Linked DNA regions of Homo sapiens. The protein of the gene in region 1 purifies or fractionates together with the protein of each later gene. This does not show direct contact. Each region holds a gene or a part of one and is shown on either strand. Other genes may lie near its edges.

What was found. Proteins that work in one complex are often made in the same cells at the same time.
Region 2: the proteins of ALDH3B1 (region 1) and CHIT1 purify together in Homo sapiens (affinity purification with mass spectrometry; 2 studies listed by BioGRID and IntAct, with this or other methods). This does not show direct contact.

The regions. Positions count from the first base shown.
Region 1 is NC_000011.10:68,013,247-68,020,336, forward strand, and holds part of ALDH3B1 (aldehyde dehydrogenase family 3 member B1), read left to right. Parts: intron 1-2,050; 5' UTR 2,051-2,051; coding exon 2,052-2,213; intron 2,214-5,280; coding exon 5,281-5,391; intron 5,392-5,526; coding exon 5,527-5,647; intron 5,648-5,923; coding exon 5,924-6,009; intron 6,010-6,468; coding exon 6,469-6,550; intron 6,551-7,090. UniProt on the Homo sapiens protein: Oxidizes medium and long chain saturated and unsaturated fatty aldehydes generated in the plasma membrane into non-toxic fatty acids. May have a protective role against the cytotoxicity induced by lipid peroxidation.
Region 2 is NC_000001.11:203,226,674-203,234,167, reverse strand, and holds the start of CHIT1 (chitotriosidase-1 isoform 1 precursor), read left to right. Parts: upstream 1-4,494; 5' UTR 4,495-4,531; coding exon 4,532-4,556; intron 4,557-5,605; coding exon 5,606-5,635; intron 5,636-7,494.

The DNA.
Region 1 (7,090 bases):
GGTTGCCCTGTGGGAGAGATGTGTCCTGTGGCCCTGGTGAGTTGGTTTCAGCGTTGCTAGGAGGGTTGCTGGAATGTTCCCTGCAGAACTCCATCCCCCACAGAGCTCCCGGCCCACAGTCCACCATTCACGTTACGTGCCTTGCATTTTTGTGGTTTCTGCAGAGATTCTTACAAAGGGTGAGAGAGGCACAGGCGTGGTTTGCCTTTGACCACTGGCAGAAGTCTGAAGGTGAGAGTAGAATGGAGAAGGACCCAGGAGAGTGCGGAGTTGAGGGAGATAAATATTTGCAGGCTACTTAGCAAAACACCCAGAGCTGACCTTTGTCGAGTACTTTCTGTGGGCACAACAGCAAATGTTTTATGCAGCGTGATGTCATTTAATCCTCACAATGACACCAGGTGCCATTAGCATCCCCATTTCACAGATGAGGAAACCGAGGCAGAGAAGGTGAGTGATTTGCCCAAGGTCCCACAACCAGTAAGAGGCAGAGCCCGGAGACAGGCCTGATGGTGGCTCGAGAGGCTCGTTCTTGGCTCCTGGGTCTCAGTCCTGCTCCCGTGACGAGCCATCCCCTATGGGGACCATGGTGCCTGTCCTGTGTGCGGGCCACTGCCCAGCTTCTCCCAATCAGAGCAGGAAGATGGTGGGTTCAGCCTGGCCCCACAATCACTCCAGCTGAGGGCTGGCCTGGGGCTCCTGACCAGGCTCTCAGTAGCACACTGGTCCAGCAGGGCCATCCTGCAGACCGGAGCAGGTCCCGCCCTCAAGGTGGCCACTTAACAATCACCCACAGCCTTGCGCTCACCGATGCTGGGCCCTGGGCTCAGAACCGACTGTGTGGTCTCATCATTAGCTGGCAGGTGCCATCATTACACCGGTAACATGAGAGGCTTCAAGCACTAGGTCTCAAATAAGTAGGCACAGAGGGGCCTGCCTCCCAGTCTAATGAGGGGGAAATAAGGGAGATGTGGACAGGGTTGGGAGGTGGGTAGAGTGTAACCAGACATTTATCACATGGCACAACTCAGAACGCTGGGGAGCAGAGTCAAGGGGCCACTGTGACAGTGGATGAGGGCATAATCTGGGTGGGCTGCCTGGAGGAAGCATCAGCCAAGCTGAGATCTGGAGGAAAGGGACTCGGAGAGGGAAGGAGGAAAGGGTCACCACGGGTCCTTGGCACCAGGCCGAGGAACGAGTGCGTCAGAGTGCTCCTCCGATGAACTTCAAGTAAACAGGCAGGGCTCGGGGGAATGTCTAGGCCCCTACCCTGCCTGCCAGCTCTGGCTGGCACCAGCACGGAGGCAGGAACGCCCTCTCCCCCGCCCTGATCCTCTCCCCCACAGCTGTTTCTGCCTCCCAGCACCACAGCCCCGGCAGGGTGGGCAGCAGGGCCTCCAGGAGGCCCGAGGTGTTCTCCCCCTCTTCCTGAGGAAGCTGAGGCACAGGGAGAAGAGGCTATTGCCCACTGGCCTGGCCTCCCTGGGCAGTGCCCCCAGGCTGGGGACAGAGGAAGACGGAGAATTCTGTGTCTGGAGTGCTCCAAGGTGGTGGCCATGGTGGCAGTGAGTCACCCCCTCTACTCATCAAGCTCCTGCTTACACCATTCAGACTGGCAGGGGTGAGGCTGCCCCGCCTCCAGGAGGGGCATCAGGGCAGGGCAGAGGCCATGGCTTGGGGTTAATTTCTGTGCGGCAGGAAGAAGCATGGCGCTCTGCCTGCCTGCTCACCCTCGGGGGCTGTGGTGGAGCAGCTGTCCCCAAGCCCACACCCAGTCCTGCAGCCGCCTCCAGGTCCATGGCAGAGGGGAGTGGTGCGAGGGTCTTCATGTGTGTCTGGGAGTGCTCACTGTTGGGTGAAAGGGGTTGCAGGCAGCCTCAGTCCCTGTGGGGTCATCTGAGTGGGTCCCTGTGTGTGTATAAGGTAGAGGTGTCTGCAAGCCCCTGTGGGTGCAGGCAGGTCAGGGGTGCCCAGACCCTGGGGCGGCTGGGTGGTGCCCATGAAGGAGGGGCAGCCCTGGCCACCCAGTTCATGCCACCCCATCTGGCAGGATGGACCCCCTTGGGGACACGCTGCGGCGACTGCGGGAGGCCTTCCACGCGGGGCGCACGCGGCCAGCTGAGTTCCGGGCTGCGCAGCTCCAAGGCCTGGGCCGCTTCCTGCAAGAAAACAAGCAGCTTCTGCACGACGCACTGGCCCAGGACCTGCACAAGGTGGGCTGGGGTTGGGGGTATGAGAGGGTGCACTGGGGCAGGGGGGCATGGAGGGCAGCTGGGACAGCAGGGGATGAAGACACCTGCGCCCTCCATGAAGCGGGGCTAAAAGCAGCTCCTCCCCTAGGCCAGAGCCACCCTTGCACATTCATCCAGTCACTTATTTCTGTATTCATGCAGCAACTATTTGCTGAGCACCTACTATGTGCCAGGTACTGTTCTAGGCTCTGGGGATATAGCAGAGAATAAAACACAGTTCCCATGCCTACGAAGATGACCTTCTATCGGAGACAATAAAACAGCAAATAAATAATTGCACAGCAAGGCCGGGCATGGTGGCTCACACCTGTAGTCCCAGCACTTTGGGAGGCCGAGGTGGGCGGATCGCTTGAGGCCAGGAGTTCAAGACCATCCTGGCCAACATGGCGAAACCCCGTCTCTACTAACAATACAAAAATTAGCTGGATGTGGTGGTGGGCACCTGTAATCCCAGCTACTCAGGAGGCTGAGGCATGAGAATCGCTTGAACCTGGGAGGTGGAGGTTGCAGTGAGCCAAGGTCACACCACTGCACTCCAGCTTGGGCAACACAGTGAGACTCCATCTCAAAAATAATAATAAAGATAATAATTACACAGCATATTGGGTTGAAATATGTGCCCTGGAGACACACCCAGGGTGAAGGGGAGAGAGGGGGCCAGGATCAGGGTGCTGTTGTATATGTGGGGGTCAGGGAAGGTTTCTCTGAGAAGGGGGCTTTAGAGCAGAGACGTGAAGATGGAGGGGAGGCTCCCCATGGATGCTGGGGAGATGGCAGCGGGCACAGCACGTGCAAAGGCCCTGAGGCAGGAGGTGCTGGGTGTTTCTGCTTGAGGAGCAGCAAGGAGGCCAGCATAGCTGTCGGGGGTGGGAGAGGAAGAAACAGCAAAGATGAGGTCTGGGGTATGGGCCACACTATGTAGGGCCTCGGAGGCCGTGAGGCCTTGGCCTTCTCTCTGGGTACAGCAGGCATCATGGCCTCTGTCTAGACCCTGAAGGCTTGGGGCCTCAGCCCCTCCCAATCCCAGTGGCAGCCAAGGCAGAACCCCAAGAAACACACTTCCCCCAACCCCTCACCCATCAGGGCCCATGCACCTGCCTGCCCCTGCCTCAGGACACCTGCCCCTGCCTCAGGACACCACCTGCCCCTGCCTCAGCACATCTGCCCCAGGGGCTGCCCCCGGCTCCTATTCTCTGGACAAAATATCTCCTCCCTTTGCCTTGAAGGCTGTAGTGTTCAGACCTTCCCCCAGCCCATTGGGCTCCCTGGGGACTGACTCCCCCGCCACCACTGAGCTTCTGCCACCGGCCGCCTGCCGGCCTTCATGAGACTTGACCTGACGTCTGTCTGGTCCCTTTTCTCCCTTCGGCTCTGATTCCACCTCCTGCCTTCCCATCCCAGCTGCAGGAGCGGGGCCCTACAAAGGCAGCAGTAGCCCAGAACATTCAACCTGGTCCCTCCCTCTGGACCTGGTCACCCCCCTGTCCCCACCCTCAGCAGGCAGCATCTGCCCAGCGTCACGTGCACCCTCTCAGTTAACCCTTTGGTGAATCTGGTTGGGCAACCACACCCAGTGGCCCCCAGAAGAGGCTCAGAGAGAGTGTGTTCTTGCCCAAGGGCATGCAGCCAGGAAGAGCAGAGCCAGAGTTTGAACCTGGCTCAAAATAGCCCAGTCTCCCAAAGTCAGGTCCCAGGTGACCTAGGAGGTGTGGCGGGCAGGCCACCAGGCTCATGGGGCCAGAGCACAGGCTGTGGGAAAGTCCGTGTGGAAGGCACCTTCCCCCAGCCTCAGTGGCTAGGAGGTGCCAGTGGGCGTGGCGTCTTCCTCCCTCTTGGGGCTCAGCTGTAGCCCTGGCCTTGCCCCTGGTTCGCTGAGTGACCTCAGGCAGGGCATCTCCTTCTCTGGGCTTCGCTGGTCCTCTGGCCCATCCAGCACCCCACTGGCCCGTCCCCCTCTGCCCTGACCCGGGAGAGCCTGCACCCCATAACCTCAGGCGCTGCCTCAGCCAGGGAGCCAGCCTGGCCCCAGTGTCCCTGACCTGTTCTCCAGCGGCCTGCAGCCTGCTGCCTGGCTGGTCTCTCCTCCCTTGGGGCGCAGAGGGCAGGGAGCACTGGCTAGCCGAGAGCAGGACAATGTCCCTATTGATTCGGGTCTCCTCACTCCTGCTTAGAAGCCTGACAGTGGCCCTGGCCCCTGGGCTGTGGGAACTGACAGCATTTACCTAGGGGTGGCTGTGCCTGTGTCTCCTGTGGACCAATCTCCACCCTGCTCTTTGGGAGACTGAGGTGGGAGGATTGTTTGAGGCCAGGAGTTCAAGACCTACCTAGGCAACACAGCAAGGCACTCTGCAAAAAATCAAAACAAACTTTTTTTGAAATTAAAAAAAAACAAAACCCTAAGTCAGATCCCATCCCTGCTCTTCTCAGGAGTCCTTGCCTGGCTGCCTGGCCCCCTCACCTTGCCCACTCTGCTTCTTGCTAAACAGGAGCAGAGCAAGCGCACAGCCACCTCGGGGCCTTTGCAGCCGCCAGGGCCTCTGCCCAAAGTATGCCGCCTCCCAGTACCCACGACTTGCTTGTTCCTTGACTTCAGGTCACTGCTCCAATGTGACCGCCGCCTGGAGACCTGCACTGACCGCTTTGTAAAAACAGCACACACACACATGCTCATGTGGATGTATACATGTGCACACCTGTGCACGCCCACAGCCACACGCTCCAGCAGTCTCCACCCCCACCCTGCTCCATGATTTCCCTAGCACAGCCACGTCCTAATGGAGCCGTCAGCGTTCTCACTTTCACATGGAACGACTGCCCCCTGCAAGGTCGGCCTCAGGGCCGGTCCCTCTGTTTGGCACAGAGACAGCACCTCACACAGGAAGCACGCACTGAACATGGAGTGAGTGAGTGAACGAATGAATGAAAATGAATGAATGAGTTGTGGAAGCAGGCCCTGCCTGGAGGAGGCTGTGCCCTCCTGCCAACTCTGGGAATCCTGGCCCACCCTGACCCCACCCACTTCCTGCAGTCAGCCTTCGAGTCGGAGGTGTCTGAGGTTGCCATCAGCCAGGGCGAGGTCACCCTGGCCCTCAGGAACCTCCGGGCCTGGATGAAGGACGAGCGTGTGCCCAAGAACCTGGTGAGCCGGCCGGGCTGAGGCGGGCAGGGGGCTCAGGGGATATTTGCTCCCACAGGGTGGCCCCTCTGGGTGGGAGCTGGCTGCTGAGGGGCCGGGGTGCTGAGCACTTAATTTCATCCCCGGCTCCCGGCCCAGGCCACGCAGCTGGACTCCGCCTTCATCCGGAAGGAGCCCTTTGGCCTGGTCCTCATCATTGCGCCCTGGAACTATCCGCTGAACCTGACGCTGGTGCCCCTCGTGGGAGCCCTCGCTGCAGGTGAGAGCTGGGCCTGCCCCTTCCGGTCACCCTTCTCCGCTCGAGGCCTCAGGGCCACCCATGGATCCCAGGAGGACATGGGAGAACTGGCCCAGGTGGCAAAGAGGACTGTCTGGTCCACCGTCCCCGGGCTGTGTGGCCCTGGGCCCGTCATGTTACCTCTCTGAACCAGGTTCTGCATCTGAAAGTGGGTGAGGCTGATGCCTGCCCTGCAGGTGTGTGGAGACCAGGAGCTGGCTACGCCTCCTCCAGCTCTCTCCCTGCACTGCCCTGCAGGGAACTGTGTGGTGCTGAAGCCATCGGAGATTAGCAAGAACGTCGAGAAGATCCTGGCCGAGGTGCTGCCCCAATACGTGGACCAGGTGAGCAGGGCTGCCGGGCAGGTAGAGCGGGAACAGGCAAGGCTCAAGGGCTGGGCAGCCCCTGGCATGGAAGGGCCTGTCAGTCAGACCCGAGTCCCCACCTCAATCCTGCCTCTTCTGAGTTGTGTAAACTTGACCAAGTCACCGCCCCTGTCAGCCTCAGTTTCCCTCTGAGGAGCAGCGAGGGCAGCCTGTTGCCCAGGGGTTCCGTGTCTGCCTCCACCTGGCCCTGGCATCAGCCCCTCCAGCGCCAGCTGGACTCCAAGCTGGGCCTGCCAATGCCAGCCAACCTTGGGGAGCTCCCTTCTCCCCACTTTGCCTCCACCCAACCCTCCTAGAGCCCTGGCTGGGTCAGGCCAGGCGGGGTGGAGGCAGGGCAGGGTCCAGGCAGGGCGGGCTGCTCCCTTGTGTTCTCGGAGCTGGGGTCCCAGAAGGAGCCTCACCCATCCCGCCTTGCAGAGCTGCTTTGCTGTGGTGCTGGGCGGGCCCCAGGAGACGGGGCAGCTGCTAGAGCACAGGTTCGACTACATCTTCTTCACAGGTGAGGCCGGGACGAGGGTCGGGACAGGCTGGGGTCGGGGAGGACAGCTGCTCAGGGGTCCTGTCCCTAACTCTGGGAGTCCACAGGGAGACTGAATTCTCCTCTCTCTCTCTCTCTGGACCAGGCTGGGAGCAGTCCTGGACCCCCAGGACCCCTTAGGAAGGGATGGAGTCCCATGTCCAGGGCCAGCCCACTGTGCCAACCACAGCGTCAGGAACCATAGCCTCTGCCCCCACTGTCCCCAGACCCTCATACGTGACCCTGCTGCCCCCCAGGCTCTTAGACACCACCCTACTGGTGCCCACAGCCCTCTCTGCAGGCAGATGAGGGACTGGGCCTCAGTGTCCTGCCCAGGGTCACCCTGCTGGCCAGGATGGGGACAGGCTGGAATGTGCACACAAGCCCTTGGAGAAATCCACGCCAGAGGTCACTTTTTTTTTCTTTTTTTTTGAGACAGAGTCTTGCTCTGTCACCCAGGCAGTGGCACAATCTTGGCACAATCTTGGCTCACTGCAACCTCTGCGCCTCCTGGGTTCAAGT
Region 2 (7,494 bases), on another chromosome or scaffold:
CTAGAGGTAGAGTTAAGGAGTTGATATTTTATTTTAAGTGGGAACCATTGCAAGGTCTTAGCAGGAAAGCAACAGGATCTGATTTAAGTTTCTCAAAGTGTACTCTGGCTGCTGTGTGGAGAATGGATTGCAGAGGCAAGAGAATTAGGAAGGAAGGCAGGTAGGAGGCTCTTCTGGGGACAGGGTGGGAGTTGACGGTGGTTAGGAGGTGGAGGAGATGGAGCAGGAGGCAGGATGTCTAATAGGTCCTGATCATTGAGGGTGAGGAAAGGGAAGGATCAAGGACACTTCCTGGGTGACTTGGAGACCCGGATAGGTGGTGATGTCTTTTACTGCTAAGGGGAAGAACACGGTGGGACGTGGGAAGGAACAGTTAACAAACATTAATTGAAGACCCCCTGTATGCTTGGTGCTGAGGGACACATAGAGAGGTGTGGAGAGAGGCCCCACTCTGCCTGGCTATGGACAGTCCAGCTACAGAGATGAGATGCTCACATGAAGCAAGAGAAAAAGGTGTGATACCAACCATCAAGATGCAGTCCCATGAGATCTGGCTGGCGTCCTCCCACCTACAAAGCCCTCTCACACATTATCTATTCGATCCACATCATTACCAAATAAGATAGGTAGTATTATCCCCATTTTACAGATGAGAAAACCAAGGCTTGGAGAGGCTGTGACTAGCCCCAGCTCAGCCAGCCAGGTTGGATGCAAATCAGCAGAAGCTTTAGAATTTCTATACAGGCATCTGCTCTGCAGTAGGGTGGGACGGGGACTTGCTTTGAAGCCTCATTTTATATCAAGCACACTGGTTTTACTTGGTTTGGGCTTTGGCAGTGGCTGAGAAAGGGGTGGGAGAAGCCAATGGGGCTGGAAAGGAGAGTATAAAATCTATGAAAGTAATTTATTGGTGATATCCATTGAGATACACCCAGTTCTGTCTGTCTCCAAGCCAGGGTTCTTTCCTATTCTGGATGGAAGGAGTTGTTCCAAGATAGCAGAAGGTAGTATGGAGTACATTGACTGTGGAAGAGGCAAGGCTTAACTCAGAGTGATCTCTGTAGGACTTGAGGGCCAGGGAGGGCAGCCCCAGGAGGGACACAATTTAGGAGCAAAGGTGTGGTGGGCTGTTAATTGAAGTTTGCTGAAGGCATCAGAGACCTCTCAGTTCTACACATGGGCAATCTGTACTGGTGGCTGGGACCTGCCTACTTAGGTGGGAACTCTGGGTCAGTCCCTGGGGAAGGCTCCTCCCCAGCTTTGGTGGACATGGGCCTGCCTTCTGCTCCCAGGTCTCAGCCTCCAGGCAGGGACTTATTCCTTGAAATCTTGCAATTCAGGTCTGGCCATCAGGTGAGCCCAGGATGTGCCCTACTAGACTGAGGCATACTGTAAAATAAATCCAGGCTGGCAAGGCATTGTATCTCTCTCCTCTCCCTCCAGCCATGTCCAGTGCCCTTTTACACAGAGCCCCTCAGCAGAGATCACCCCCACCTGCCTACCTCAACCAGTGGTTCTCAACCGACAGGACACAGAGTTTTTAATGATGTCCCACTGTCCCTGCATGTATCGTGGGCAGTTTCCTCACTGAGAGGCTCCATCAGTGAACATCTGGTGTGTTTGTTATAACTTCCTTCCCTTTCTCTCTTTGTCCAGCAACCTACTTATTCTCAAAGCTCTGTTCAAGCATCACTCCACTGGCTTTCCCACCCCACCCTGGCTGGTGTTTCTCCTTGAGCTCCTTTGCTCCCTGTGCCCACCTTCATTTACCACGTGTCATTTCTGCTGTATATGGTGTGAGGGGCCTAACTTTGATTCTTTCCAGATTGGTAGACAATTAAGTCATTGGCATTTATAAAACATCTTTTTCTTATTCATTTGAACTGCTACCTTCATTGCACACACCCTCTCCATATATGCTCAGACCTACCTCTGTTTGTCTGTCCTGGTGGCAATTCCATGCTATTTTAATCCCAATGGAATTATAATAAGTTTTGTATAGTGTGTCACCATCATTACTGGTTTTGTATTTTAGTTGACAAAAATTGACATTTGTTATGATATTGTTTTCCCGTGCAAGAACATGTTCAGATCCTATTGCAAATTTATATCCTGTGGGTAAGTTTTATAGATTCTACTATTAAACTTATTATTGTTATTAAATTTATTTATAAATATTTTATAGATTTTGACACTTCTGTGAATCAGACATTTCCTTCACTTCTATTTCTAATTGGTTATTGCTAATGTAGAGAAAAGCTATTCATTTTTGTACATTCACCTTAAATCCAGCCATATTACCAAACTCTGTTATTATTTTTGATCTGTTTTTCTAGAAAACCTAAAGACAATAGGGGATGGGGCAGTGTTTGGAGAAACTCAGATTCTGGGCACTGCAGTGCATGTCCTCCTGGGGACATGAGGCATAGCGAGAAATTCATGAAACTGACAGGTCAGTTGTGTATATGGAGGCGGGGGCGAGATAAGGTGGCCCCTAACTCTCCAGAGAAGCCTCTCCTCCCCGAGGCTCAGGACCTCCCAGTCCTCACTCCTGCATCCCACTCTCACTCCCCCACCACCAAGGAGCTGAGGCACCTCTGCACATCTCAGGTGACCCTGAACAGGCTCTTTTGCAGGATCCCCAAGAGAAAGGGCTGACCACAGCAGAAACAGAAGCCATGACTGCAGCAGGGAAAGGGAGGACTTAGGGCTGGTCCATCTGAGTGCTGAGGTCCAACACTCTCAGGGGCCTCGAAGAGGTTACTAGAGCCCTCTGACACCCCTAGACCAGCAGAAGTGGCAGCACTTGGCAGAACCAGGAATAATAGCAGCCACCATGGAGTGCGTTCCCAACAGTCCTCTGAGGATTCCCCTTTACAGATGAAGAAACTGGAGTTCAGGGAAATTAAGGAACTCACTTCAGTTTACACAGATAGTAAATGGCAGAGGAGGAATTCAAACTCAGGAACCTAACTCCACAGCCTGCCGCACCCAATATTCCCACGTGGCCATCTAGGCCATTCATGTTAAGCCCACCGGCCAAAGACTGGATCCCCTAGAAACTGCAGAGCTTTCTCAGGGACCCTGGAGTTCATGCATACACCAGACATTGTCTGCAGACATTACAGTAATATGTGCCCACTTGGGTCCTGTGGTGAATTGAATGGTGACCCCCTCCCACCCCCCGCAAAGGATAACTTCACCTGGAATCTCAGAAGGTGACTGTATTTGTAATAGGGGTCTTTGCAAATGTAATGAAGGTAAAGATCTCAAGATGAGATCATCTTGGATTAGAATGTCCTTCTCAGAGACAGAAAGGAGGGGACATACAGAGACACAGCGAGGAAGGGCGTGTAAAAATGGAGGCAGGCAGAGGCTGGAACGATGCCGTTGCATGCCCAGGAATGCCACAGGCCATCCGAAGCTGGAAGCTGCTGGGAAGTATTCGCCCCTGGAGCCTTCGGAGGAAGCATGGCCCTGCCAACTCCTTGTTTCCAGGCTTCTGACCTCCAGAACTGTGAAAGAATAAACTTCTGTTGTTTCAAATCACCTGTTTGGTGGCCATTTGTTACAGAAGCTCTGGGAAACCGACACAAATGTCCACCATTCTTCTGTTTTTTTTTTTTTGTTTTTTTTTTTTTGATGGAGTTTCACTCTTGTTGCCCAGGCTGGAGTGCAGTGGCGCGATCTCGGCTCACCACAACCTCCGCCTCCTGGGTTCAAGCAATTCTCCTGCCTCAGCCTCCCGAGTAACTGGGATTACAGGCATGTGCCACCATGCCAGGCTAATTTTGTATTTTTAGTAAAGATGGGGTTTCTCCATGTTGGTTAGGCTGGTCTCGAACTCCTGATCTCAGGTGATCTACCTGCCTCGGCCTCTCAAAGTGCTGGAATTACATGTGTAAGCCACCATGCCTGGCCCAAATGTCCACCATTATTATTCTTCATAAGAAACATAGGCATTTCAAGCCATTACCAAACTTATAGTCACTATTTATCATTATCTATTTTTCTCCATCAATGGATATGCAACTATTACTATCATGAAAAGTAAATTATATTTGCAACCCCATTATCTTCTAGATGGAGAAACAGTTTGAGAGAGGGCAGTGGAGAAGCAAGAGAGCTGGTCTGGAACCCAGCTGCCTGACTCGTGAGTCATTTCTCTTCCTCCAAAGCCCTATTAAGTCTGGGGCTGCTTATGGTCCTCACCAACTACACAAAGAAAGTCAGGGTCATGCTCATCCATCAGGAGGTTCAGGGCCACTTCCCGCTTTCCTCTGTTTGGCAACACTAAGAGTCACCCTCTGATTGTTCCAGAAAAGCAAGAATTGCTAAAGGCCATTGTGTCAAGTTTGCCCAATTCATGCTGCTTGACATCTTACCCCTCCCCACCCTGCTCCCATCCCCCCCACCCAGTGCCCCTGATTGCAACACTCCTGGCTGGGGTGGGACAGGGTGGCCAGATAAAAGCAGAGCAGGACCTGGAAAGCTGGTTTGTATGGGCTGCAGCCTGCCGCTGAGCTGCATCATGGTGCGGTCTGTGGCCTGGGCAGGTGAGCCGTCGGATAGTGGGCTGGGTCTCGGGAGCTGTGGGGAGGTGGGGATGTGGATGTTCAGGGACCACTTGCTACCATTTGCAAGGAAGCAGGAGGACTCAGGAGAACTTCAGAGGGTCATTTTATCCCTCTCCATGCCTCCTGGCTTGCAGTCCCTTGATTACCTTTCCTGTGGGCTCCCCCTTAGGCTCTTTCAGCCCAAGAGACTTCATGTTGCAAGGGAAGGCTTTTCTCAACAGGCTGAAGATGACTTGACTTTCCTCTCTCTGTCCTGAAAGCCCAGAGTCAATGAGGCCCCTGCACTGGGTCTTTGTGTCTTTCCCATGTTCTTAGGTCCCTCCTGTTGGCCTTATCCAAGAAGCGCCCACTGCCAAGAACCTCTTCTCCAACCTCATATTGTCTGTCCTGCAAGAGGGCAGCCTGGGGCCAAGATCCTGGGCATCCTTGCAAATTTTCATGGAGGTTCTATTAGGTTGACAGAGAAGTCCAAGGTCACCAGGTGAAAGAGATCTCTTCGAAGGAGTCCTGTCAGACCCTAGGTCTCCAAGGCTGTGGTTGCCTACCACAGCCAGGTAGCGGAAAGGCAACAGGAAGCCATAAACGATGGGAGCAGAGGCACAGGCCCTCCCCAGGAGATGAACTCTCTCCATGCAGCCCTTCCAGATTGATTCTTTCTAGCCCCAAAACAGGCTTGTTTCTTGTTCCGAAAGAGAAACTATCTCTCTAAATAACTCACAAGTCAGCAGTTTTTCCACAATCTTCCTGAATCCACACTGCCCTTTACTGAGGTATAGAGAGGGGGCAGCCTCAGCCCATGGAACTTTCCATCAGCTTCTAGGACCAACCCAGGCCAGGAAGAGACCCCCGTGGTCTGGTCTGCATGAAGGGATGGGCACAGTGCCCTCCTGGGTCCCTTCTGAAAGGAGAAAGCTTGATTTGTATGAAATCAGCCCTCCCTGACCACCTCCTGTGCTTCCGTAAGCTGTGGGGCCTGGGAAGGTGAGAATGGCAGCATAACCCTGGCCTTCTCTCTTGTGTTGCTCCAGGTTTCATGGTCCTGCTGATGATCCCATGGGGTAAGTAGCCTCTTTCTTGGCTGCCTCAGCCCCTTCCCTGGGCTCTGCTTAATGTCCCAAAACACCTTCCCTGCCAGACCTCCCCAAGAGCTCCAGATTTCAGTGGGGACTCTCTTCCAAAGCTCAGACCCCTGCAAATGTCCCCATCTGCTACCAGCCCTCCCAGGAAGGCTCTTGCCTCCTTATCCATTAGCTGAGCTCCTGCACATCTGTGGGGCCAGCTTGCGCATCAGCCTCTTTCAGGGCTTTCCTTTCCTGGGGTTGCTGGCTCCCTCCTCTGCACTCTGTGCTCTTGCAGCACCTGTGTGTTTTACAGTACAGTACTGCCTCTCATTATTGGCTTAGGTGTCTCTCTGCACCAGTCTCAGACTCCAAGTTGCTGCAGGTAAGGAACCTAAGTCTCATCTGGTTCAGCATCCCCAGCCCCTTAGCTCTGCGAGGACAACACACTTGCTTCTGGTCTGTTGAACTGATCAGATGTGGAGCTTGAGAGAGGCAGGAGGGAGCTCCTTGTTGTGTCAAATGGAAAAGAGACCTGGGGGACCTTCAGCAACTTGAACTCCTGGTCCCCGTCTTGTCCCACCCCATTCCCTGGGCATCAGTGGCCTGGGAATGCTGGCCTCTCAGAACTTGTCCTGCGACTGTGCCTCTCACGCTGGGCTGTAGCATTGGAGGTACATTTCCCTCTCAGCCTCATAGGATGGAACAGCCGGGGGCACAGAAACAGCAAACATGGGGAAGATGAGAGGTGGAAGATTTCTCAAAAAGCTTTAGTCCAGGCTACTTCTGGGCTTTCTGCAGTATAGTAATAATAGTAGGACTTTGTGTGGACTAAGGGTTAATATATGTGAAGCACCTAGAACAGAACTTCTTCCTTGCAGTGTTCCTCCGAGTGTTTTACATATATTAACTTTAGCCCACACTGGGGTCCTGTGACACACATTGTGGAAGGTCCAATGGTCTCCCCGTTTCACACAGGAGGAAGCTGAGTCGCACAGCGAGTAAGTTGCAAAGTTGGGATTTCAACCCAGACACTGACATGCCAGAGTCCCTGCTGTTAACCACTGCACTTTATTTTCTCCATAGTACAGAAATTCATAACAATATTTGATATGCGACAGCATGACATGATAGAAAAAGAGCTTCCTGGCTCCTTCCTACATGGCCTGGGGGATGAGTTATCTGGTTTCATCCCCTCCTTCCTTTCTTTTCCTTTGGGGAGTTCACCAATTCTCCTGTATCATTGCAGGCTACACCCCAGCCCCACTAGCAAGCTGCACTCCTGGGTGACCTCTGGTTAGAGACAGTGACCACTCCGGGGCCACGTGTATGCCCAAGGTCAGCCCTCCATGCTCTCGGGTTCTAGTTGAGGCCTGCCTGAGCGGTCTCTTCCCAAAACTCTCCTATAGACACTTTGCACCCCTCCTCTTCCTCGTCCCATCCCTGTCCATGTGGGCATTGGAGGGGGTACAGACAGACCCTGCTGGGGCAAAGGGAAGTCCCAGGTTCTAGACACCAGCCACAGGCACGCTCCAGTCCAAACTCACTGCTCCATCAAGATCTTGGCATAAAATGTTGGCTCATACAAACCACACCATCATAGATTGAGAGACTGGAAGAGACCCCACAGACCACACAGTCATTATCAGATGGGGCCGGGATTGAAGATGAGATAGACCCAAAGTCTATTTTTGGCAGATGCTGGAATGAAGACTAGCATTCTTGCTTCCTGGTGTCCTGGTCAACCCTGCACAGGGCTGACCTCAGTGGGGGTCATCACCACCGAGCCCTCACTGGGAATAGACCATCCCACCCCTGCAAAGTCTTTTCACACACTGTAGGGTACTCTAGAGACAAGT